Homo sapiens: one gene and its partners. The protein of the gene in region 1 purifies or fractionates together with the protein of each later gene. This does not show direct contact. Each region holds a gene or a part of one and is shown on either strand. Other genes may lie near its edges.

Region 1 (7,034 bases):
CTTTCTGTACTTCACAGGGGCCCCAAGCCTTGTCTTGAGCTCCTTGTTCTTGGTCCCTTCCTCCCATCATTAATTCTGGCACGATAAGCCATTTGTACTCAAGGGTCAGGACCAGTTATTTCTTCTCTCTCTGGTTGGGTAGTTTCTTTCCTCCTCTAGAAGCAGGGAGCCATACATCACTGGTCCTAGGGACAGAGGAAAAACATCCTATGCAGCCATGATAATTCAAAAACACCTCCTTACTCCCCTCCCTTGCGATACATCCCTGGTCCCAGGGACAGAGAGAAAGAACATCCTATGCTGCCATGGTAACTCAAAAACACTTCCTTATGCCCCTTGCAGTCCCTCCCTTATACTTGTCCCCATAAGAACATAAGAGTAAGCCGGGCATAGTGGCGCATGCCTGTAGTCCCAGCTACTCGGGAGGCTGAGGCGGGAGGATCACTTGAGCCCTGGAGTTCAAGACCTGCTTGGCAACATAGCGAGACCTCATCTTTACTAATAAAAAAAAAAGAATATGAAAATCAAGTTTTGTGGGTTCATGAAACCTGCCCTTCCCAATGACAGGAGAGGCTTTCTGTCCCCACACTTCTTAGGACAAAGAAGGTGATCCTCTTCTCCCTGCCTCACCTGGTCCAACTTGAGAGCTTTTGGGGATGAGAAGAGGGAAGATTCCTCCTGCCACCCCAGTCTTGGTCCTAAACTGTCACTAGGGGTGGTTGTAGCCTGGAGGTCAGTTGGATCCCTTGGGAAGAGAGGCGTCGTTGAGGGGGAGTCTAGATGGCGATTCTGGGGTTCTGACTACTTGGGCTTCCTCTTTGTCCTGATTCTCTTGTATCCCTACTTCCTTTAGGAGTCTTTTTGGCACTCTGGGGTCCAGGTGCTGGGTGGGTGGTGATGTCAGGGGTTCCCAGGCATGGCTGCCTTGCTGAGAGTCTGCTCTATGAAAAGGTTGGCCTGTAAGCATCCTGAGTTTGGAGACCCCACAGAGCTCTTTGAGAAGGGGCATGTGAACTGAGGTGGTGGAAAAAGCTGGGTGTGGCACGGTAGTTGGTGCCTGGGTTCCAACTCTGGGTCTTTCAAGGCTTTGCTGGATGAACCAGGGTAGGTTCTACCTATGCTCTCTGGGCCTCAGTTTCCTCACTGGCCAGGCAAAATGCTGGTGAGGTGTTGTTTAGCTTTGGGATTTTAGGGAACTCAGTCCAAAGTTCTCTGGACCTGGAGGTGGCAAAGAATGGTGGATGTCTTTTGAGGAGGAACTGGGTTTCTCCCCTCTCTTCCTGGCTCCTCTGTTCCCTCTCAGCCATCCAAGCTTGGTGGGCAGGACAAGCAGCCTGTTTTGTGTGAGGCTCAGGGTTGATGAACAGCCATTTTTTGTGGGCAGCCATGTTGTAATGAACAAGCTCGATGGGATTTCCTGTCAGGAGGCCTGTTGGATAGTGGTGTAGAGAGGTAGAGTTGTGTGTGGAGTTTGGGCTTTGGAGCAAGGCAAGCTTTGAGCCATCATCCCTCAATTCTCTCATCACCTCCAGACCTCAGCATCTCCTCCTTACCTGCTTTATAGCTTTAGGCAAACTACTTGCCCCCTCAGCTGCCCATTTTGCAAAAGTTTGTCCATGCCCAGGTGTGTCTGACCTTGCACACCTTGGACCTTGGCCGGTTCTTCCTCTTGCCCAGAATGGGCAGTTTGCCCCAGGGTCATCTTGGTTCTTCCTAGGAGCCTTTGTCCACTCCTAGTAACCTATCTTTGATAGCAAAGGCCCTTCATTTGGCATCTAGGAACCTGCTGATTTCTTGGGCTCTTCTTACCCCAACTGGAATTGGGTAGCTAGCTGGTGGGGAAGCAGGAAGGGGTCTCTGCCCAGGCAACGTGGATTTGAGTCCTGTTTCTGCAGTAAGCTTTTCTGTGGTCTTCAGGCAGTTCTCTTTTCTGGTTCTTGGTTTCTCCCTCCATGAAATGGGTAGTGTTGAGGAGGGAGGTTGGACTCATTGCTCTGAAGCAAGTTATAGTCTCCTCCCTGCTCCCACTCCCCTCACCCTTCATGAAAGTTTTAAGTGGGACCCCTTGGCCTTTGGGGATTGTGCTAGGACATTTCAAGCAGTGTTCAGCGTCCTTGGCTGGTGCTGAGCCCTTGGGTGTGTTTCTTTTAACAACTTTAATGAGATGTAATTCATGTACCATACTATTCACCTCTTTGAAGTGTACAGTTCAGTGGCTTTTAGTATATTCACAGATTTGTGCGTCCATCACATCACTACAGTCCATTTTAGAACATTTTCATCACCTTAAAGAGAAATCCAGCACTCTTTAGCTATGATCCCCCAATTTCCTCATCCCTTTCCAGCCTCTGGCAACCACTAATCTACTTTCTGGCTTGATTGATTTGTCTGTTCTGGATGTTTCATGTAAATGGAATAATAGAATATGCAGTTGTTTGTTACTTGGCTTTTTTCACTTAGCATAATATGTTCAAGGCTTATCCATGTTGTAGCATACATCAGTGCTTCATTCCTTTCTATTACTGAATAACAGGACCTTGGGTTTTTTTGTTTTTTGGTTTTTGTTTTTGTTTTTGTTTTTTTTTTAAGGTGGAGTCTTGCTCTGCTGCCCAGGCTGGAGTGCAGTGGCGCAATCTCAGGTCGCTGCAACCTCCGGCTTCCGGGTTCAAGTGATTCTCCTGCCTCAGCCTCCCAAGTAGCTGGGGCTACAGGCATCTGCCACCACACCCGGCTAATTTTTGTATATTTAGTAGAGATGGGGTTTCACCATGTTGGCAAAGCTGGTCTCCTGAACTCCTGACCTCAGGTGATCTGCCTGCCTTGGCCTCCCAAAGTGCTGGGATTACAGGTGTGAGTCACCGCACCCTGCCAATCTTAGAGGTTTTTAATCCCCCTGCCCTCAGTGGCCTAGCCAAATGTTGGGGCCTTGCTCTTCTCCCCTTCTGCCCTGGAGGGCTTGTGTTGGTCCTTAGAGAGTAGTGTGTCTATGTTCCTCGTTGGATGGGTTGCCTGTGTGTGTTTTTTTTTGAGATGGAGTCTCACTCTGTCCCCCAGGCTGGAGTGTAGTGGCGCGATCTTGGCTCACTGCAACCTCCACCTCCCAGGTTCACACCATTCTCCTGCCTCAGCCTCCCGAGTAGCTGGAACTACAGGTGCCTGCCACCTCGTCTGGCTAATATTTTTGTATTTTTAGTAGAGACAGGGATTCACTGTGTTAGCCAGGATGATCTCGATCTCCTGACTTCGTGATCCGCCCACCTCGGCCTCCCAAAGTGCTGGGATTACAGGCGTGAGCCACCACGCCTGGCCCCCTGTGTTTTGTCCATGGAGCCAGGCTAGTGTTCCTGGGTGCTTTGCTGGAGGGGGTGGTCTTGGCACCAGGGCTGCTGGGACAGAGCTGTGAGTCACAGAATGCTAAACACCTTTTGACCATAGGCTCTGGGAAGACATCTGTCCATGAACTGCCACTGCTGCTGCCATCTTTTGCCCCCCCACCCCACCCCCACTTCAGTGGCAGCTCATCCATCCATAGGCAGGGTCAGTAGTTTCCCAGGGTGAGAAGGGAGATTCCAGGCCCCTGCTGCCTTAATTCTAACCTCCCACCCTGGAGGATGGTAGGCAGGTGGACCTTGCAGAGCGGGATCCATGCCATATTGTCTCACACCTGTGAGGCACTAGGGAACAGACACCAAGGAGTGCTACCAAGGGGGGTGTGTTAGTTTCCTGTGGCTGTTGTGACAAATGTTACCACAGACTGGGTGGTTTAAAACAACAGAAGTTGGCCGGGTGCGGTGGCTCACCCCTGTAATCCCAGCACTTTGGGAGGCCGAGGCGGGTGGATCACGAGGTCAGGAGTTCAAGACCAGCCTGGCCAAGATAGTAAAACCCCATCTCTACTAAAAATATAAAAATTAGCTGGGTGTGGTGGTGGGTGCCTGTAATCCCAGCTACTCGGGAGGCTGAGGCAGAGAATTGCTTGAACCCAGGAGACGGATTGGAGGTTGCAGTGAGGTGGGGGTTGCAGTAAGCTGAGATTGCGCCACTGCACTCCAGCCTGGGTGACAGAGCGAGACTCCATCTCAAAAAAAAAAAAAAAAAAAAAAAGAGAGAGAGAAGTTTATTCTGTCACAATTCTGGAGGCCAGAAGTCCACAATCAGTTTCACTGCATCCAAATCAAAGTGTTGGCAGGGCCACACTCCTTCTGGAAGCTCTCAGGGAGAATTTAGACCTTCTCTAGCCTCTCGTGGCTGCCAACATTCCTTGGTTTATGACTGCATCATTCTAATCTCTGCCTCCATCTTCACCATCGCCTTCTCTGTATATGTGGTTTCCTTTTCTGTCTGTATCAAATTTCCCTCTGTCTCTCTTTTATAAGGACACTTGTGATTGCATTTAGGTCCTACCTGATACTCTAAGATAACCCCCCATCTCCAGATTTAATAATGTAAGTTAATTACATCTGCAAACACTTTTTTTCTTTTCTCTTCTCTTTTTTTTTTTTTTTTTGAGGTGGAATCTCACTCTGTCACCCAGGCGCAGTCTCGGCTCACCGCAACCTCCGCCTCCTGGGTTCAAGCTATTCTCCTGCCTCACCCTCCTGAGTAGCTGGGATTGCAGGCGCCCACCACCACACCTGGCTAATTTTTGTATTTTTAGTAGAGATGGGGTTTTGCCATGTTGGCCAGGCTGGTTTCAAACTCCTGACCTTAGTTGATCCACCCGCCTCGGCCTCCCAAAGTGCTGGGATTACAGGCATGAGCCACTGTGCCCGGGCTTTTCTTTTCTTTTCAGACAGTGCTGGCCTCTGTCACCCAGGCTGGAGTGCAGTGGCGTAATCTTGGCTCACTGCACCCTCCACTTCCTGGACTCAAGTGATCCTCCAGCCTCAGCCTCCTGAGTAGCTGGGACCACAGGTGCGAGCCACCATGCCCGGTTAATTTTTGGTGTTTATTTATTTGTTTTTGAGATGGAGTCTCGCTGTGTCACCCAGGCTGGAGTGCAGTGGTGCTATCTCGGCTCACTGCAACCTTCGCCTCCCAGGTTCCAGCGATTCTCCTGCCTCAGCCTCCTGAGTAGTTGGGATTACAGGCGCCTGCTACCATGACCAGCTAATTTTTGTATTTTTAGTAGAGATAGGGTTTCACCATGTTGGCCAGGCTGGTCTCGAACTCCTGACCTCAGGTGATCCACCCGCCTCGGCCTCCCAGAGTGCCGCGATTACAGGCGTGAATCACCGTACCTGGCCTGTATTTTTTGTAGAGATGAGATTTCACCATGTTGCCCAGGCTAGTCTTGAACTCTTGAGCTCAAAGCGATCTGCCTGCCTTAGCCTCCCAAAGTGCTGGGATTGCAGGCATGAGCCACGACGCCTGGCCCTACCTTTTTCATTATAAGGTAACATTTACAAGTTCCAGGGGGGTTAGGGTTTGATATCTTTGCGTGGCTATTAATCAGCCTACTAGAGAGGCTTTTTTCCCTCCTGGGGAAGGGAAGGGAACTCATTAAGTGGTCTCTTACTGGGCAAAGCCCTGTAATATTTGAGTCTGCCCAGCATCCCTATTATTGGGAGGCTTGGTATCCCCATTCACAGATTGGAAAACTGTGGCTCAGAGCAGTTCATCATCACATGGCTAATAATTGGTGGAGCTAGATTGGAACCTAAGTCAGTTGGGTTCCACAGCCTGCTCCAACTTCACTTGGGCCCTTAGACCACTAGGTTACAGAATCTTGCCTCAGCTCCTGGGATCCTCTGGTGTTAGGGAGCTTTACTCAGCCTTTTTGTGGAGGCTCAAAGATATGGAGGGATTTTCCCATAGGCTCAGCGATGAGTTTGCAAGGTTCACAATCTCCTCAGGCCAGGGCATTGTTGGAGCTTAAACTTATCTATGGCTGAGCTATCCCCTACCCCCCACCCCTACTAGCCCTTCCTGAGCAACATTTTCTCCCCAAAAGGAGAAAGAGAAGGGCCAGAGCCCAAACTCCTCAGGCTGCTGATGACAAAGCCAGTGGGTGGCTAGCAGTCCAGCCTCTAGATCCAAGCCTGGATGCCAGTTTGACTGCCCCAGGACCCAAACCCTGCAGTGCGAGGGGCCTATTCAGGTCTCTTTCATGTTTAGAGACAAACCAGGATATTCTGTGGATGGGCTGCAAGGTATGTCCTCCATGCTGTGGCTCGTGGGGGCCTTCCCTGTTGCCTCTACACTAGGCTTTGCTGGTATCCAAACTCCAGCTCCTTTCTCTTTCTGCCTTTGTTTTTTTGTTTTTTGTTTTGTTTTTGTTTTTGTTTTTGAGACATAGTCTTGCTCTGTTGCCCAGGCTGGCTGGGGTGCAATGGTGCCATCTCGGCTCACTGCAACCTCCACCTCCCGAGTTCAAGCGATTCTCCTGTCTCAGCCTCCCAAGTAACTGGGATTACAGGCACACGCCACCACGCCCTGCTAATTTTTTGTATTTTCAGTAGAGACAAGGCTTCGCCATGTCGGCCAGGCTGGTCTTAAACTCCTAACCTCAGATGATCCTTCCGCCTTGGCCTCCCAAAGTGCTGGGATTACAGGCGTGAGCCACCGTGTCTGGCCTCCTTTCTGCCTTTGTAAAGTGAGGGTAATGTTTCCTGCCACCTGGGCTGTGGTCAGGAAAATTAAACGAGGTCACCCTTTGCATCTGGCATGGGGCAGGTATTCAGTTAATATGAGTTCATCTTTCTTCCTGGTCCTCCCTGCTTACCTGCCTAGTACTACCCAGAACTTTAGCTCTACTGAATTCATTGCTGGGCTCCAGGCATTCCTGGTACTTCGTGGCAGAAGTGACTTCATTTCTCATCCAGTTAACAAGCATTTTTGGAGGTCTTGGTGTTTTAATCCTTTGGTCAGGTGGCACCTCCTCTCAGGTGCTAGCCTTAATGACTGTGTTTCTTTTTTTCTTTTTTTTTTTTTTCCTTGAGACAGAGTTTTGCTCTTATTGCCCAGGCTGGAGTGCAATGGTGCGATCTTGGCTCACCACAACCTCCGCCTCCCGGGTTCAAGCGATTCTCCTG
Region 2 (5,169 bases), on another chromosome or scaffold:
TAGCCAGGCATGGTGGCAGGCCCTGAGGCAGGAGAATCACTTGAACACAGGAGGCAGAGGTCGCGGTGAGTTGAGATGGCGCCATTGCACTCCAGCCTGGGCAAAAAGAGCAAAACTTGGTCTCAAAAAAAAAGACTAATATTTTACAAATGTCTGAAGATAATGGGAAATGTTGTCAAGCTCAGGCTTTTGATGCTGTCATTTGAGAAGGGTATTAAAGATGTTTTATTTATTTATTTATTTTTTTTGAGATGCAGTTTCGCTCAACAGGCCCAGGCTGGATTGCGATGGTGAGATCTTGGCTCACTGCAACCTCCAACTCCCAGGTTCAAGCAATTCTCTCACCTCAGCCTCCCGAGTAGCTGGGATTACAGGCGCCCACCACCACGCCCAGCTGATTTTTGTATTTTTAGTAGAGACGGGTTTCACCATGTTGGCCAGGCTGGTATCGAACTCCTGACCTTAGGCAATCCACCTGCCTCGGCCTCCCAAAGTGCTGGGATTACAGGCATGAGCCACCGCGCCCAGCCTAAAGATGTTTTATTAATGTGGGTTGGAAAAGGAAAGTCTAAGCATGAGAAGGAGGAAGTGGGCTGTTAACGTTAAATATGAAAGGCTGTGTTCACTCACAATATGCCAGGAAATATTATTTCAGGTTCATCAATGAGGAAATTGTTAGAGTCCCTTTAAATTGGACATATCCTCATTGTTTAATTTCATAGAGCCTAAATTATCTAGGACCCTGCCCAGGCTAGAGTGCAGTGGCACGATCTCAACTCACTGCAATCTCTGCCTCCAGATTCAAGTGATTCTCCTGCCTCAGCCTCCCGAGTAGCTGGAACTACAGGTGCGCGCCACCATGCCTGGCTGATTTTTTGTATTTTTAGTAGAGATGGGGTTTCACCATGTTGGCCAGGCTGGTCTTGAACTTCAGACCTTAGGTGATCCACCCTCCTCAGCCTCCCAAACTGCTGGAATTACAGATGCGAACCACAGTGCCTGGCCTAACCCTCACTCTTGTGAGTTGTTTTTTTTTTTTCCCCTCTGAGAAACCAGATTTAAAACTAGGTAATGAAACAGTTCACTGATGGTAAATGGTAAAGGCTGCCTAGAGTGTGTGGAATGACTTTGAATCCTTAACTAGGAAACGGGGCTGGCAGGTTGCACATGTTTGCTCTTCCCAGATCTCTGCTCTGCTTGATTTTTACAATGGGGGAAGAAAAGGGTGTCTTTGTAAAAGACCCTTTGCTTTTATTAAACAAAAAAACAGCCTGCTTTGGTACATCTACTGATTCGTGATTTGAAAAATATAAATATGTGTCATATTTTATGCAGACGAGGAGAAGACCTTTTCATGTGTATGGACATACAGCTCGTTGAAGCACTGTGTGGCTTCCAGAAGCCAATATCTACTCTTGACAACCGAACCATCGTCATCACCTCTCATCCAGGTATGGGAACTAGGCAAGCTTAAACTTCTCTTTTCTATTCTAGTATTTTCCTTGTCTCCTGTTAACAAAGTGTAGTATAGGCACTGAGGGAAACCCATTGTTTTTCTTTCTCGGTTACATATCCTTCTCTGGGCTTAGATGAAGTTATAAGGTCTTGGCTCTCTTGTCAGCCCTTGGAAAACCCATAAGTGAAAGGTAACAGGATTGCTTTGCCACGTAAGTTTTACTCCTGCCAATGAGCTAGGACAGTGCTCTGTTCTTTATATTCCCTGCCTCATAAAAATGTGACCATACTTAAGGAAGAACTTGGCTTCAATGTTTTTAGGTCAGATTGTCAAGCATGGAGATATCAAGTGTGTACTAAATGAAGGCATGCCAATTTATCGTAGACCATATGAAAAGGGTCGCCTAATCATCGAATTTAAGGTAAGCTGTAATGTACTTTAAGAATACTTGAGAACAATTGGCTTACTAAAATCTGATAAAAAAGTAAAATTTCAGCCAGGTGCAAGTAGCTCATGCCTGTAATCCCCGCATTTTGAGAGGCTGAGGCAGGAGGATCCCTTGAGCCCTGGAGTTTTGAGAACAGCCTGGGCAACATAGTGAAACCCTGTCTCTTTAAAAAAACAAAAAAAAAAAAAAATTAAAATTTCTGAATGCCTCAGAACCTGAAACTTACATTTTTCCACAGCAAGAAATATATGGATCTGGCCACGTGCCACTGGCACACACCTATAATCCCAGTGCTTTGGGAGGCCAAGACAGGTGGATTGCTTGAGCTCAGGAGTTAAAGGCCAGCCTGGGCAACATGGCAAAACCCCATCTCTACAAAAAGTACAAAAATTAGCCAGGCATGGTGGCACACACCTGTAGTCCCAGCTACTCGGGAGGCTGAGGTGGGAGGATTGCTTGAGCCTAGGTGGTCAAGGCTGCAGTGAATCAAGATCGTGTCACTGTACTTCAACCTGGGTGACAGAATGAGACCCTGTCTCAAAAAAAGAAAAAAGAAAATTTACCTAATAACTACTTCTGTCATGTTGAGCATTCTTTGTTAACAAGTTGAGGATGGGGTTTTTTGCATCATTAATTGGATATTTAAAGATAGGTTGTGGGAAGGGTGTGTGGGACAAGTGGGTATTTTACTAATGAAAGGTTGTAACTGGCATCTTAAAGTTGAGAGGTGCTTTATAATAATTGCAGATTTCTTGGCAAAATAGTGTAATGCTTGATTTGTTAATAGGTATAAAGCAATCCAGTCATTTTCCTGAGTCTTAAATTGGCCTGTCACCATAAAAATATTAATTAAAACTTTTTTTTTTTTTTTTCCTTTTTGAGACGGGAGTCTTGTTCTGTCACCCAAGGTGGAGTGCAGTGGTGCGATCCTGGATCACTGTAACCTCCACCTCCTGGGTTCAAGCAGTTCTCCTGCCTCAGCCTCCTGAGTAGCTGGGAATACAGGTGCCCGCCACCACGCTGGGCTTTTTAGTAGAGATGGGGTTTCACCATATTGGCCAGGCTGGTCTCAAACTCTTGACCTCAGGTGATCTGCCCATCTCAGCTTCCCAAAGTGTTGGGATTTGTAATCCCAATTGTATGAGCCACCGCGCCTGGCCTAAAAACATCTTTGGTAAGGAAGAACTACCCTTTTGAGAGTAAGAATAGCTTTGTTTAAATATGTCGTAAGAAGGGTTAGGCTGTTGCAGGATGGGTTTTGGTATTAAAAAGTCAGTTTGCTGGATAGAACAATGGTTGTTAAAGTGCAGTTTTATTTAATACAATCATTTTTAATAAAGCCTGACTTCTGGTCATAATCCTTGAACTCTAGTTCAGAGTGTGCTATGCACTGTGCCTTTTTAGAGCCTGTTCTAACCTGAGATTGGCAGATTCACCTAAATATTACGTGTTTACATGTGTTTTTCTGGGGAAAATGGGTCCATGATACTCTAAGGGAGCTAATGATGAAATCAGATTGAACAGTGAAAGTTTCTTTTGAAGGTAAACTTTCCTGAGAATGGCTTTCTCTCTCCTGATAAACTGTCTTTGCTGGAAAAACTCCTACCCGAGAGGAAGGAAGTGGAAGAGACTGATGAGATGGACCAAGTAGAACTGGTGGACTTTGATCCAAATCAGGAAAGACGGCGCCACTACAATGGAGAAGCATATGAGGATGATGAACATCATCCCAGAGGTGGTGTTCAGTGTCAGACCTCTTAATGGGCCAGTGAATAACACTCACTGCTGGCATTTAATGTGCAGTAGTGAATGAGTGAAGGACTGTAATCATAATATGCTCACTACTTGCTCTTGTTTTTGTTTTAATAAACTATAGTAGTGTTTTAAAAAGTTAAATGAAGAATAAACGCAAATATAAAAGCTCTGATTTTGCCCTGTATGTATGATGACTTCAGTGTGCAAGATGAAGTTTAATACCTGTAAAAACTACAAAGAAGTTCCCCTAGCATTTCTAGGCCAAACCTTGTAATTGACTTCAGCTATGTACGTGGACAAGCTTAGACTGAAATGCTAGGTATATGTATTGGCTTCAGTGTATGACCCTTCATTGTTAAGCTATGAAAGTAAAACTCTGTATTTAACTGGCAATGAGGAAAAAAAAATTTTGTAGAGAAGTGTTGGTCTGTATAGTTCTTTATATTAAGTGGGATTCATTGTAATGCCTCTGCATTTATTCTGTTGCCTCAGCTGTTACTTGAAGATGGCGTAATATATAATTTATCCTGTGGTATCAGTGATAAAAATGATACCTTTCTGTAGGAGGGGTTTATCATAATATGCTGCTTCTTGAAGGCTTGCACTTCCAGAATTGTGTTTCCTTCTGCTGTGCCATTCATATATATATACATATATATATATAATCTTGACCAGTCCTGGTCATTTGCTCCCCTCCTTGTCTGTGGACCATGATAAGCCCAAGTAGTGACTTCAGAGCTGGGTAACAGAAATTAAAGTGAAAAGACCTTTACGTGGAGAATTTGCATGCGTAATATAGGAAGGTGTTCTTTAGGTATGTTACAGGATTACTTTAAACCATTTGACTTTCGCTCCAAAGTTATGTTGGTAGTATAGCAAATTATGATGAATAGCTTTAATTGTATGTTTAAAAGTCTCATATGTTCACATGCTTAAATCTGGGTATCAGAATTTAAGCAATTCTTGAAATGTATTGTCTCCTTAATATACTAATTACAAAGCATCTCCAATGTGTGTCACTACAGGCTTTTTTTTCCCAGATCATCAAATTTTGGCTTTTAACTAAGATACATAGCTTTATTTTAGCTAGTCTGAATGAGTGATACAAAAATACTATTGAACTATAGTTAAATAATATTAAATAGGATGGAGAGTAAAAGTGGAGGACTGGGTAATGAGCCAAGAAGAAGGGGACTTAGAAAACTGCAAACATTGGAGTGAGCATGAGAGAACAAGTTCTCATAAAGAATACAAGTTTAAAAAGGAGAAAAACTTTAAAAAATAAGGTTCCCAAACCATCAGTGTTTGTCAACTTCCTTTTAGTCTGTGCCAGCCACCCACAGCTACCCTAAAGTTGGAGATGTGAAGCAGATGTTCAGGAAAGTATAATTGATCGGTGTTCAAAAAAGTGCTTTGTGACAGATTTCACTTTTCACTGGGTTTATGTACAAATTCTAAAAATCTCTGAACCTGTATTTTAATGCATTTAAGAGCATTGTTTAGGCCAGGC
Region 3 (7,034 bases), on another chromosome or scaffold:
GTTCTAGTTCTTTGAATGTCTTCCTTTTTTTTTTTTTTTTGAAACAGCGTCTTGCTGCTCTGTCACCCAGGCTGGAGTGCAGTGGCACAATCTCGGCTCACTGCAATCTCCGCCTCCCTGGCCCAAGCCATCCTCCCACCTCAGCCTCCCTAATAGCTGATACTACAAGTGTGCACTGCCACGCCCAGCTAATTTTTGTATTTTTTGTAGAGACGGGATTTCACCATATTACCCAGGTCTCGAATTCCTGATCCCTTTGATGAGAGATCTGACACATCCCTGTGGTGCTCCCTCTGGGCCAGGCACTGCTCCAAGGGTTTCATATACTTTCATTCATCTGTGCAACAGCCCTGTAGGTAGGCCCTGCAGTCACACCATCTGACAGAGGAGGAAACAGGAGTAGAAGAACTGAGTGGTCCAGGGCTTCAAGGCTCAGAGGGCTCCGGTTGCCCCCAGCCCTCGTTCCGTCCCCTGCTCCACCCAGTGCTGCTTGCCATGTCGGCATCAGGCCTGATCTGAAAGCTTCCGGAGCATCTTACAGACGTCCACCTTGCCACCATTCAGGACTGATAAGTTCTCTTGGATTTGCGTTGGACCTTTTTTTTTTTTTTAAGATGGAGTTTCACTGTTGTTGCCCAGGCTAGAGTACAATGGCATGACCTCCACCTCCTGGGTTCAAGGGATTCTCCTGCCTCAGCCTCCCAAGTAGCTGGGATTACAGGCGCCTGTCACCACGTGGTGCCCAGCTAATTTTTATATTTTTAGTAGAGGCAGGGTTTCACCATGTTGGCCAGGCTGGTCTCGAACTCTTGACCTCAGGTGATCCCGCCTTGGTTTCCCAAAGTGCTGGGATTACAGGCATGAGCCACCACACCCGGCCCAGGATTTCTTTATATATTCTGGATATCATCCCTTATGAAGTATATAGTTTGCAGATATTTGCTCCCATTGTTTGGGTTGTCTTTTCACTTGATATAGTGTCCTTTGATGCACAAACATTTTAAATTTTGATGCAGTGCAATTTATTGTTTCTTTATTGCCTATGTTTTTGTCATCAGGTTTAAGAAACCACCTCATCCATAGTTATGAGGATTTTCACCTATGTTTTCTTCTAAGAGTTCTGTAGTTTTAGCTGTTAAATTTAGGTCTTTGATCCATTTTGAGTTAATTTTTGTATATGTTATTAGGTGAGGGTCCACTTTATTCTTTTGCATGTGGATTTCCAGTTTTCCCAGCACCATTTGTTTAAAAGACTGCTTTTTCTCCACTGAATGGTCTTGGCACTTTTGTCCAAAATCAATTGGCAATATATGTAAGGGTTTATTTCTGAGCTCTCTCTCCTGTTCCATTGGTGTATATGTGCCAGTACCACACTGTTCTGATTATTATAGCTTTGTGATAAGTTTTAAACTCAGGAAGTGGTAGTTATTCACCATTTGCTCCTCTTTTTCAAGTTTGTTTTGTTTCTGGATCCTTTGCAATTTCATATGAATTTTAGGATCGGCTTGTCCAATTCTGCATAAAAGACAGTTTGAATTTTGATATGGATTGCATAGAATGTGTAGATCTGTTTGGGGCACATTGTCATCTTTACAATATTAAGCCTTCTGGCTGGGTGTGGTGGCTGACGCCTGTAATCCCAGTACTTTGGGAGGCTGAGGCGGGCATATCACTTGAGGTCAGGAGTTCAAGACCAGCCTGGCCAACGTGGTGAAACCCCGTCTCTACTAAAAATAAAAAACAAATTAGTCGGAGGTGGTGCACACCTGTAATCCCAGCTACACGAGAGGGTGAGGCAGGAGAATCGCTTGAACCTGGGAGGAGGAGGTTGCAGTGAGCTGAGATCATGCCACTGCACTCCAGCCTGGGTAACAGAGGGAGACTCCATCTTAAACAACAACAATAACAGAAGAAAAAAACAGTATTAAGTCTTCCAATTCATGAATGAAGGATCTGTCCATTTATTTACGTCTTTAATTTCTTTCAACAGTATTTTGTACTGTTCAAGTCTTGCACATTCTTGGTTAAATAAGTATTATTTTTGATGCTTCTCTAAGGAATTGTTTTTCTTTTCCTTTTTTTTTTGAGACAGAGTCTTGCTCTGTCACCCAGGCTGGAGTGCAATGGCACAATCTTGGCTCACTGCAACCTCTGCCTCCCGGGTTCAAGCAATTCTTCTGCTCAGCCTCCCAAGTAGCTGGGATCACAGGTGCCTGCCACCACACCCAGCTAATTTTTTTTTTTGAGATGGAGTCTTGCTCTGTTGCCCAGGCTGGAGTGAAGTGGCCCAATCTTGGCTCACTGCAAGCTCCACCTCCCGGGTTCACACCATTCTTCTGCCTCAGCCTCCTGAGTCGCTGGGAATACAGGTGCCTGCCACCACGCCCAGCTAATTTTTTGTATTTTTAGTAGAGATGGGGTTTCACCATGTAGCCAGGATGGTCTCGAACTCTTGACCTCAGGTGATCTGCCTGCCTCGGCCTCCCAAAGTGCTGGGATTACAGATGTGAGCCACTGTGCCCGGCTGGAGTTGTTTTCCTTAGTTACATTTTCAGGCTGTTTGTTGCTAGTATATAGAAATACAAGCTGGGCACCGTGGCTCACGCCTGTAATCCCAGCACTTTGGGAGGCCAAGGCGGGTGGATCACCTGTGGTCAGGAGTTCGAGACCAGCCTGGCCAACATGGTGAAATCCAGCCTCTATTAAAAATACAAAAATTAGTCTGGCATGGTGGCAGGTGCCTGTAATCCCATCTACTCAGGAGGCTGAGGCAAGAGAATTGCTTGAACCTGGGAGGCGGAGGTTGCAGTGAGCTGAGATCGCGCCATTGCACTCCAGCTTGGGGAACAAGAGTGAGACTTCATCTCAAAAAAAAAAAAAAAGAAATACAGTGGATTTTTTTATGTTAATCCTGTATTGATTGCTGAATTGGTTTATTAGTGCTAATAGGATTTTTTATGCACTATTTAGGATTTTCGATATATACAATCATATATATTCAATATATACAATTAATATATATGTGAATAGAGATAATTGTAGTCTTTGTTTCTAGTTTGCATGGCATTTATTTCTTTTTCTTGCTTAACTGCCTTAGCTAGAACTTCAAGTACAATGTTGAATAAAAGTGACTAGAGCGGGCCGGGGGTGGTGGCTCACACCTGTGTTCCCAGCACTTTGGGAGGTGGAAGTGGGCAGATCACTTGAGATCAGCAGTTTGAGACCAGCCTGGCCAACACGGCGAAACCCCATCTCTACTAAAAATACAAAAATTAGCTGGGTGAGGTGATGTGCACCTGTAGTCCCAGCTACTTGAGAGGGTGAGACATGAGAATTGCTTGAACCTGGGGGGCGGAGGTTGCAGTGAGCCAAGATCATGCCACTCCACTCCAGCCTGGACGACAGAGCAAGAACCCTGTCTTTAAAAAAAAAAAAAAAAAAAGTGGCTAGAACAAACATCTTTATCTTGTTCCTGATCTTAGGTGGAAAACTTTTTTGTTCCTGATATTAGGTGGAAAACTTTTAGTCTTTCACTGTTGAATATGATGTTACTTGTAGGTTTTCTGTAGATTCCCTTTATCGAGTTGAGGAAATTCTCTTATATTCATAGTGTGTTGAGTGTTTTTTATCATGAAAGGGTGTTGATTTTTTTTTTAAAGATAGGGTCTTGTTCTGTCACCCAGGCTGGAGGGCAGTGGCATGATCATGGCTCACTGCAACCTCGAATTCCTGGGCTCAGGGGATCCTCCTACTTCATCCTCCTGAGTAGGTGAGACTACAGGCATGAGCCACCATGCCCAGCTAATTTTTTAATTTTTCTGTAGAGGTAGGGTCCTGCTTTGCTGCCCAGGCTGGTCTTAAACTCCAGGGCTCAAGCAATCCTGCCTCAGCCTCCCAAAGTGCTGAGATTACAGGGGTGAGTCACTGCACTGCACCCAGCTGTGTGGGATTTTTCAAATGCTTTTTTCCTTTAGATGATCATGTGTGGTTTTTTTCCTTTCATTTTGTTAATGTGGTATATTGATTTTCGTATGTTGAACCATCCTTGAATTCCTCAGATAAAGCACGCATATTCATGGCGTATTATCTCTTTATTATTATTATTTTTGTAGAGATGAGATTTCACTCTGTTGCCCAAGCTGGTCTCAAACTCCTGGGCTAAAGTGATCCTCCTGCCTCAGCCTCCGAAAGCGCTGGGATTATAGGCATGAGCCACTTGGCCCTATCTTTTTTCTTTTTCTTTTTTTTTTTTTTTGAGACAGAGTCTCACTCTGTCGCCGGGCTGGAGTGAGTGGCGCGATCTCGGCTCACTGCAACCTCCATCTCCCGGGTTCAAGCAATTCTCCTGCCTCAGCCTCCTGAGTAGCTGGGACTACAGGTGCCCGCCACTATGCCCAGCTAATTTTTTGTGTTTTTAGTTGAGACGGTGTTTTGCCATGTTGGACAGGCTGGTCTTGCACTCCTGACCTCGTGATTCACCCACCTTGGCCTCCCGAAGTGCTGGGATTACAGGCGTGAGCCACCGCAGCGAGCCTTATCTTTTTAACAGTTAAAAGTTTAAGGCCTTATCATGTAATAACATTGCTGGATTTGATTTGCTGCTGTTTTGTTGAGAATATTTGCATCTGTATTGATAAGGGATATTGGTCTGTAGTTTTCTTTTCTTGGCATGTCTTTGTATAGCTTTGATGCCAGCATAATATTGGCCTCATAGAATGAGTTAGGAAGTATTCTTTATATTATGGGAAGAGGTAAAAAGGGATTGGTGTTAATTCTTCTTCAAATGTTTGATAGAATTCAACAGTGAAGTGATATATACAATCATATATAGAGAGAGAGAGAGAGAGAGAGAGATGGACTTTTCTTTTGTTGGAAGTTTATTGACTATTGATTCAATTTCCTTATTGAAATTGACTTTTCTTTTTGGAAGCTAAAACGTATAACTGTAGTGAAAGTTTCTGAACTTTTCTTTCATTGGAAGTTTTTTGACTACTGATTCTTTATTTGTTATAGGTCTATTCAGATTTTCTGTTTCTTCTTGAGTCAGTTTGGTCTCGCTCTGTCGCCCAGGCTGGAGTGCAGTGGTGCCATCTTGGCTCACTGCAACTTCTACCTCCCGAGTTCAAGTGATTCTCCCACCTCAGCCTCCCCAGTATCTCGGACTACAGGCGCACGCCAGCATACCTGGCTAATTTTTGTATTTTTAGTAGGAACAGCATTTCACCATGTTGGCCAGGCTGGTCTCGAACTCCTGACCTCAGGTGATCCACCCGCCTCGGCCTCACAAAGTGCTGGGACTACAGACATAAGCCACCGCGTCCAGCCTTGAGTCAGTTTAGATAGTTTGCATGCATGTTTCTAGGAATTTGTCCATTTTGTTTATGTTATCTAATCTGTTACCATACAATTGTTCATAGTATCCTTTTATAGCCCTAGTTATTTCTGTAAGATCAGTAGTAATAGCTCCACTTTCTCTCTTGGTTTTAGCAATTTGAGTCATCTCTTTTCTTCCTCTTTTTTTTTTTTTGAGATGGAGTCTCACTGTGTCACCCAGGCTGGAGTGCAGTGGCATGATCTTGGCTCACTGCAACCCCTGCCTCCCAGGTTCAAGCAATTCTGCCTTAGCCTCCTGAGTAGCTGGGATTACAGGTGTGAGCCACCACACCCAGCTAGTTTTGTTTTGTTTTTTTGTTTTTGAGACGGAGTCTGTTTCTGTCTCCCAGGCTGGAGTGCAGTGGTGCAATCTCACTCATTGCAACCTCCGACTCCCAGATTCCAGCAATTCTCCTGCCTCAGCCTCCTGAGTAGCTGGAACTATAGGCGTGCACCACCACGCCTGGCTGATTTTTATATTTTTAGTAGAGATGGGATTTCACCATGTTGGCCAGGCTGGTCTTGGACTCCCTACCTGAGGTGATCCGCCCACCTTGGCCTCCCAAAGTGCTGGGATTATAGGCATGAGCCACCATGCCCAGCCAGTTTTTGTATTTTTAGTAGAGATGGGGTTTCTCCCTGTCGGCCAGGCTGGTCTTGAAATCCTGACCTCAGGTTATCCACCAGCCTTGGCCTCCCAAAGTGCTAGGATTACAGGCATGAGCCACCACGCATGGCCTGTCTTTTCTTCTTGGTCATTTTCGCTAAAGGTTTGTCAATTTTGTTGATCTTTTTTGTTGCTGATCTCTATTGTTTTCCCATTCTGTTTCATTTATTTCCATTTTAACCTTTGTTTCCTTTTTTCTGCTGGTTTGGGTTTAATTTGCTCTTTTTTTCCCCTAATTTTTCAAGGTATACAGTTAAGTTATTGATTTGAGATCTCTTTTTTCTTTTCTTTTTTTTTTTTTTTTTTTTTTTTTGGTTGCTGTTGAGATGGAGTCTCCCTCTGTCACCCAGACTGGAGTGCAGTGGCATGATCTCAGCTCACTGCAGCCTCCGCCGCCCAGGCGATTCTCCTGCCTCAGCCTCCTGAGTAGACGTTTCCCGGCCAAGGTGTTTCTTTTTGAATGTAAGCATTTACAGCTACAGATTTCCCTCTAAACACTGCTTTCACTGCATTCCATAAGATTGTTTTTTGTTGTTGTTTTGTTGTTTGAGACACAGTCTCACTCTGTTGCCGTTTGGAGAGCAGCGATGCGATCATAGCTCTGTAGCCTTGAGCTCCTGGACTCAATCAGTCCTCCTGCCTCAGCCTCCCAAGTAGCTGGGACTACAGGTGTACACCACTGCACCTAACTAATTTCTTTTATAAGTTTTTGCAGAGGCCAGGCACAGTGGCTCACACCTGTAATCCCAGCACTTTGGGAGGCCAAGGTGGGTGGATCACCTAAGGTCAGGAGTTCGAGACCAGCCTGGCCGACAGGGAGAAACCCCATCTCTACTAAAAATACAAAAATTAGCTGGGCGTGGTGGCAGGTGCCTGTAATCCCAGCTACTCAGGAGGCTGAGGCAGGAGAATCGCTTGAACCTGGGAGGCAGAGGTTGCAGTGAGCCAGGATCACACCATTGCACTCCAGCCTGGGTAACAAAAGCAAAACTCC

What was found. The genes of interacting proteins can lie anywhere in the genome.
Region 2: the proteins of OTUD5 (region 1) and DNAJA1 purify together in Homo sapiens (affinity purification with mass spectrometry, with the first as the bait; 3 studies listed by BioGRID). This does not show direct contact.
Region 3: the proteins of OTUD5 (region 1) and ZGPAT purify together in Homo sapiens (affinity purification with mass spectrometry; 3 studies listed by BioGRID, with this or other methods). This does not show direct contact.

What each region holds. Positions count from the first base shown.
Region 1 is NC_000023.11:48,947,608-48,954,641, reverse strand, and holds part of OTUD5 (OTU domain-containing protein 5), read left to right. Parts: intron 1-7,034. UniProt on the Homo sapiens protein: Deubiquitinating enzyme that functions as a negative regulator of the innate immune system. Has peptidase activity towards 'Lys-48'- and 'Lys-63'-linked polyubiquitin chains. Can also cleave 'Lys-11'-linked ubiquitin chains (in vitro).
Region 2 is NC_000009.12:33,035,239-33,040,407, forward strand, and holds the end of DNAJA1 (dnaJ homolog subfamily A member 1), read left to right. Parts: intron 1-1,335; coding exon 1,336-1,451; intron 1,452-1,776; coding exon 1,777-1,877; intron 1,878-3,446; coding exon 3,447-3,665; 3' UTR 3,666-4,669; downstream 4,670-5,169.
Region 3 is NC_000020.11:63,711,005-63,718,038, forward strand, and holds part of ZGPAT (zinc finger CCCH-type with G patch domain-containing protein), read left to right. Parts: intron 1-7,034. UniProt on the Homo sapiens protein: Transcription repressor that specifically binds the 5'-GGAG[GA]A[GA]A-3' consensus sequence. Represses transcription by recruiting the chromatin multiprotein complex NuRD to target promoters.